2 linked regions of the Homo sapiens genome follow. The protein of the gene in region 1 interacts with the protein of each later gene in a pairwise test. Each region holds a gene or a part of one and is shown on either strand. Other genes may lie near its edges.

Region 1 (3,600 bases):
TTCCATTCTGTGTACTGACTTTATCATGTAAATCCCAAGTAGGACTTGTTCCACTGGACTATCTGTGGTTTGATACCTGACAATGAAGGCAGAGACCGTCCCACAGCTTAATCAGACAAAACTCAGCATTAGAGAGGGTGAGAGAGGGGAAGAGGTACTTACAGGGACTCCTCTCTATCCGAACTGTTTGAAGAGTGGAGGTCTTTCTGGACTTAGGTTGGGAGTTGATGAGCAACCTGTCCCATATACCTGAAAATACAGACACACAAACACCCTTAATTTACTACAGCATAAAAAAACAAAGGCCCATCAGTAAGCCTCTCACATGACCAGTCTTAAGACTTGACTGTCCACACTCCCCCAAAATTTTTTTTTTAAAGGAGAACTCCAAGCTCCATTACAACATTTTAATTCTTTATGTACAGCCAGCCACCTCTCCTTTCTTACATCTGTCTCATTCACCTCTATCACCAATGGCAGGTAATAAATGCACACCAATCTGCACTTTTCTGGATCAGAAATTCATTAGCAGACAAACGTGGGTCTGCAATGACAGAACGGAGGAAACAGTACAGAGCATAACAATGGTTAAGTGAAGCCAGAAATGGTTACTAGTTGTGTAACACTGGGCAACTTACCTGATCTTCAAGCATTTGTTTCTTCATTAGTAAAACATGCTTGCCTGGTATTTCCCCTTCCCTGAAGACGTTCAACCCAAGGAAAGCAGCCTTTTGGGGATTTTGTCACCCACTCTACCTTTCCAGCCTCATTTCTCACTACTCAAATCATCCCAACTCTCTATCCCATCAGAGTTCCAAGAGGGGAACGTACAAAACTCAAGGCTTTGCACACCCTATTTCTAATACCCGGAAAATCCCTTAACTCTCTGGTTAAAAAACAAATCCTGTTCACCTGCAAAGCAGAGCCGCAACAAACATCCATTGAATGCCTACTACTTAAGGCCTACTGGATTCGTGATCAGAGCACAGAGTCTGGAGCCAGACTACTTGAATTCAAGTCCCAGTTTTGCTACTTTCTAGCCACATGATCTCCAGAAGGTAAATTACCTGTATGATAAATCATGTCTCAGGTTCCTCAACTATAAAACAGAGATAACAGATTTTCTGCAAAGGGTTGTTGTGAGGATTAGATGAGTTAGTTTCTGGGGCATACATAGTAAGGACTACATAAGCTTTGGTTATCATTATTATACTTCCTTCGGAATCTCTGGGTTCTCACAAAACCTTTTCTTCAAGCTAGTATTTACTGACAACATGCCCAAGCCTTTTTAGGCATTCTCCTCCTCACAAAAATTCTACAGGCATTACTACTATCACCATTTTCCAAATGCAAAAACTGAGGCTTAGGGAATGAAAATAACTCTAAGTCCCACCAGTTAATTACTAGTGGAGCTGGGATTCGAACTCGTGCTTTTAAATTCTACCTATAGTGTCTGAAATGCTGTGTGGATTTCCTGGATGCATGTCTCCCTCTACAAGACAGCAGCACTAAGGGGTGGTCTGTGTGGGTGTGAAAGAGGTAGGGACTGTTAGCATAATATTACTCCGCTTCCCCCTATCAGCCAACTGCTCCGACCCAGGCAGCCAAACCAAAAGCCCTCCCTTCCCCAAAAGAACTCGAGAGCTTCCCAGCTTCCAGGGCAGGGCAGATGCCTGGCAGCGGCGCCTGGCAGGGTGGGCGCTCACTACCTTGCAGAATATAAGAACCACTAGCTGGGGAAACCATTCCGGGCCCGCAGCCGGGTGCCCGCCCCAAAGCCCCCACCCCTGCCGCGGGCAGGGCACGCCGGAGCCCCGCAGCAGTCCCCGGGGCTCCCCTCGAGGGTACGGAGCCCGGGCAGGGAGCCACCGGCCGGCTCCCAAACTGCACCGGCCGCGCCTCCTCTGCCGCACGTGTGCGGCCCATGCCGCCGTCACCCGTCCGTCACCTCCGCGGCCGTCGCTTCCCGCCGTCAGCAGCTCCTTGGACACTGGGACTCCTGAGGAATCCCGGGTGGGCGACGAACAACTCGGGCTAGCCTTGGGCTTGCCATGGACCTCCATGCTTCCCTCAAGCCTGCACTCTCAGGCCCGGATGCAGGAAAAAGGCTCGGGTAAGGGGGCGGGGAGAGGGCCGCGATTGGAGGAAACTGCGGTGGGCGGAGTAAGGAGCGGAGAGAGAGGCGGGGCGAGCGTGGTGCAGCCTGGAGGCTGCGCGGGAGCAGGGGCCATTCCTACTCCTGGGAAAAAGAAAGGTTCAGACACTGTCATAGGAAAAAACAGCGGGCAAGGCTCGATTTCGCCAAATTCGGGCATAAAGAGCATAACATTAGGCTTCCCTCCTCTTTATCCTTTTTTATTAAATTTTTTTTTAATTGGTGAAAAAACACGTAACAAAATCTACCATCTTAACCATTTTTAGTTGTACAATTCAGTGGTGGCAGACCTCTAGATCATTTTCATCTTGCAAAACTGAAACCTTATACCCATTTACCCCTACTCCAGTCCCTTGGTAACCACCATTCTACTTTCTTCTTTGTTTCTTTCTTTTTGAAACAGCCTTGCTCTGTCGCCCAGGCTGGTGCCTCAGCCTCCCAAGTAGCTAAGATTACAGGTGCACACTACCACGCCCGGCTAATTTTTGTATTTTTGTATAGAGACGGGTTTTCACCATGTTGGCCGGGCTGATCTTGATTTCCTGACCTCGGGAGATCCACCCACCTTGGCCTCCCAAAGTGCTGGGATTACAGGCGTGAGCCATCATGCCCAGCTACCATCGTTCTACTTTCTGTTACTATGAGCTTGACTACTTCAGATACATTATGTAGGTGGAATCATACAGTACTTGCCTTTTTGTTACTAATTTCACTTAAAATAATACCCTCAAGGTTTAGACATGTTGTAGCACATAACAGGATTCTCTTCTTTTTTAAGCCTGAATAATATGCCATTGTATGTATATACCACATTTTCTTACCATTGATCTCTCAACAGGCGTGCTGGTTGCTTCCACCTCGTGGTCATTGTGAACGCTGCTGCAATGAACATGGTGGTACAAATATCTCTTAGAGACCCTGCTTTTCAATGCTTTGGGATACATACCCAGACATGGGATTACTGGATAATAGGGTAATTCTACTTTTTAGGTTTTTGTGAAGCCTCCGTATAGTTTTTCATAGTGGCTGCACCATTTTACATTCCCACAGTGCACAAGAGTTCCAATTTCTCCACATCCTTGTCAATATTTCCTTTTTCTGTTTGGTTGCTTCTTTCTTTTTGACAGTGAGCATCCCAGTGAGTGTGAAGTGATATCTTGAAGTTTTGGTTTGCATTTCTCTAATGATTTAGTGATGCTGAACACCTTTTCATGGGCTTGTTGGCCATTTATATATCTTCTTTGGAGAAATGACTATTCAACTCCTTTACCCATTTTTTAATCTGGTTATTTGTGTTTTTGTTGTTGAGTTGTAGGAGTTATTTATATATTCTGGATATTAACCCTTTATCGGATATATGATTTACAAATATTTTCTCCCATTCTGTAGGTTGCCTTTTCACTCTATTGCTTCCTTTCCTGTTTGTTCTTTTAACAGTCTTTATT
Region 2 (3,600 bases), on another chromosome or scaffold:
CAAAATAAGATTTAGTTGTATTTTGTTTTCTCACAGCCACCACAAGACTGAACAAAATATTTTCTGTTTGGGCATTCTGAGGAAGCTGTATTACAGTTAACTGTTAATGCTGTGTGAGTTTAGAAAAAGTCTTGATAGTAAATCTAACTTTTAACACAGTTAGTGCATGAACTGAGTAGTTAAACATTTCCGTATTCAGACAGGAATAGTGGAAAAGGTATCTTAGGTGCGTTACTCAATCCAAATGTGACTGAATCATTACAGTGGACCCTCATGGTGCATTGAAAAGAAACTGTTTTATATCCAGGTTTCAGAGGACCTGGATAAATAAAAGCTTTGGATTTTGCATTCAGTGTAGTTAGTTGGATTTTGGGACCTTTGCCTCAATGTTAGCTACTGGGATTGGCATATGTGTTCACAGGCAGAGTAGTTGATCTCACACAACGAGTGCTCTCACAAAACTGGTGTAAGTTTCTTATGCTGATGAGCCCCCGCTTTTTTTTAATTTGGTGCCTACAACTTTGTTACAATGATTGTACTTGCTGGGCTATCAAGTTACAATGCTCTTGGTCTTTTTTGCTGCTGTTTCGCTATTTGTCCTTACACCTAGGCCAAGTACCAATGTTAGCTGTTGGAAGGGATTCTGTTTATTCATTCAACATGCAACTATCTAACTTTAGGGAATGGAAGGAAGTTCATTTTTAAGTTGTGTGTTGTCAGTAGGTGCAGTGTCTAGGGTAGCGAATCCTGTAAGTTCAAATTTATGATTAGGTGACAAATTGACATTGAGATTGTCCTTTTCCCTGATTAAAAAATGAATAAAGGCTTTTTAAAGAAACAAACAAACAAAAATATTGTGTCTAAGATTATCAGGCAGCACTAGAGGGTCAGACTGGGTCTGGGTAGAGTTGGTCACAGCCAGGCTGACTTACTGCTGTCACCTGTCAGATGAAGAAGAGCAGACAAGGGTTTTTCAGTTGAAGCCCAGAACCTCCCTGGCCCTCCCTACTCTAGCTCCTGGGAATATGACTGCACCATAGGATGGACAGGGGCCCTGAGTCGGGAGGAACTGCCTTCTTCTCATGGTTGGTTCATAAAAGCATGTGAATTGTGGCAGAATCTGTGAAGAGGGGTTTGCACTGAGACGACAATATCCAGTTAAAACATTGCACCTAATGAGCAGAGCTTATAGATTTGGGTTTTCCCTCCTTTTTTAGATTTTATTTTGTGACTTTCTCAATTCATAAAGAGATTGAAAGAACATTCACAATTTTCATTAGATTTTGATTCATCCTTCTGGTATTTCTGTATGCAAAAACAAGCATATGTATAGATGTGTGTTTTCTTGCTTCCCTTTCTCTCTTACAAAGAAAAAGTAGCATATGAACTTCTCCTCTCCATAGGCGTTGCCTCACTAGCAATGTAAGAGGGTACCTATTTTCTTATAACCTCACCAATGGAGTGCATTGTCAAGCTTTTGAAGAATTCTTGCCAATCTGATAAGTGAAAGCTTGATGGCATCTTAGTGCAGCTTTAATATATATATCTTTCATTATGAGGTTGAGCCTCTTTTCACGTTTTTAAGGGTCATTTTGTGTCTTTCTGAACTGTCATGTCTTTTTTCTTTTTTCTGTCAGGTTTTAAAGATCTCTTTACAAATTAGGGAGAGTAATACTTTAAGTTATCAGCTTTATTTGATTGAGGGTGGGTGGGTTTTTTTTTCTTTTTTTGACCATGCAGAAATTTTTCTTAATATAGCTGAATATATCAATATTTGTTTTCATTGCTTCTGGAAATTGTCATAGATAGGCTTTCTCATGCCCAAATTATAATGACTTTTGCCAGGATTTTCCTCTAGTACTTTTAAGATTGCATTATTTTCCATTTATGTTTCTGATATAGTTTGTGTTTGTTATGGTATATGGTATTAAATATGGCTCCAAATATATAATTTTATGTGACTATTCTGTTGTTGGCAGCCCTATTTATTAAAAGACCATCTTATCATCAGGAATGAGATACCACCTTAATGGTGGTGAAATGCCACCCTAATATTATACTAAATTTCCATATGTACTTGAATCTATTTGGAGACTTCCTCTTCTGTTCTTTGGTCTCTTTGTTCATGTGCTAGCACCACACTGCTCTGATTCTGTAGAGACTTTATGATATGTTTGAATACTAGGTAGGCTAGCACCCCTCATTGCTCACCTTACTGTATAATTTCTTAGCCATTTTTACATATTTTTTAATTCTATAAACCAAAGAATCAATTTGTTTAGCTTGAAACAAACTCATTCATATTTTTGAGGAGATTGTATTTAGTTTGTATTTTAAGTTGGGAAATTTGACATCTTTATGATACTGACTTGTCCTAGTCTAGAACGAGGGAAGCTTTTTTTTTTTTTTTTTTTTTTTTTAAGACAGAGTCTTGCTCTATCACTCAGGCTGGAATGCAGTGGTATGATCTAGGCCTACTGCAACCTCCACCTTCCAGGCTTAAGTGATTTTCATGTCCCACCCTCCCGAGTAGCTTGGACTACAGTTGTGCACAACCACAGCTGGCTAATTTTTGTATTTTTAGTAGAGACAGGGTTTCGCCATGTTGTTCAGGATGGTCTCGAACTCCTGGCCTCAAGTGATCCACTCACCTCAGCCTCCCAGAGTGCTGGGATTACAGGCGTGAGCCACTGCGCCTGGCCAGGGATGCTTTTTTATATAGTCAAGTCTACATTTGCATTTTTCAGCAGTGTTTTAAAGTCGTCCCCATTTTAGAGGGGCACACTTTTTTAGTGTTTTATTTTGGTGGCGTTGCTATTATAAATGGGGTTTTCTCTTACATGATAACTTCTAAGTGGTTACTGTAGGTATATGTGAAGGCTATTGATTTTGTATGTTAATTTTATATCCTGCTCTCCTAGTGAATTCCTTTATTCTTTAAGTCTGTTCTAACATTGATACTCTCAGATTTTCCAGGTATACACTAAAATGCTTGCAAATAAAGAGACTTTTTCTTTTCCAGTTATTGGGGCTCTAATTGTTCTTGCTTTCCAATTGCATTGGTTAACACCTTCAACATAATGTTAAGAGTGATTATTATAGTGAGCGTCCTTGCCTTATTTCTGACCTCAATTGAAATGTCTGTTGTGTTTCCACATTTTAAAAGTTGCTAGCTTTAGGACTTAGATGTAAATATTTTATATATTTTATCATTGATCATAACTCTCATCATCTAAAACATTGGGTTTCTTGTTGTTTTTGTTTAGCTTCCAGAAAAGCGTCCCACATTTCAGCAACTCCTGTCTTCCATTGAACCACTTCGGGAAAAAGACAAGCATTGAAGAAGAAATTAGGAGTGCTGATAAGAATGAATATAGATGCTGGCCAGCATTTTCATTCATTTTAAGGAAAGTAGCAAGGCATAATGTAATTTAGCTAGTTTTTAATAGTGTTCTCTGTATTGTCTATTATTTAGAAATGAACAAGGCAGGAAACAAAAGATTCCCTTGAAATTTAGATCAAATTAGTAATTTTGTTTATGCTGCTCCTGATATAACACTTTCCAGCCTATAGCAGAAGCACATTTTCAGACTGCAATAT

The links. Proteins that work in one complex are often made in the same cells at the same time.
Region 2: the proteins of NOPCHAP1 (region 1) and BMX interact in a two-hybrid assay, tested with the Homo sapiens proteins (one large-scale study listed by BioGRID and IntAct).

What each region holds. Positions count from the first base shown.
Region 1 is NC_000012.12:104,984,816-104,988,415, reverse strand, and holds the start of NOPCHAP1 (NOP protein chaperone 1), read right to left. Parts: upstream 2,101-3,600; 5' UTR 2,064-2,100; coding exon 1,949-2,063; intron 250-1,948; coding exon 163-249; intron 1-162. UniProt on the Homo sapiens protein: Client-loading PAQosome/R2TP complex cofactor that selects NOP58 to promote box C/D small nucleolar ribonucleoprotein (snoRNP) assembly. Acts as a bridge between NOP58 and the R2TP complex via RUVBL1:RUVBL2.
Region 2 is NC_000023.11:15,552,807-15,556,406, forward strand, and holds part of BMX (cytoplasmic tyrosine-protein kinase BMX), read left to right. Parts: intron 1-3,266; coding exon 3,267-3,341; 3' UTR 3,342-3,600. UniProt on the Homo sapiens protein: Non-receptor tyrosine kinase that plays central but diverse modulatory roles in various signaling processes involved in the regulation of actin reorganization, cell migration, cell proliferation and survival, cell adhesion, and apoptosis.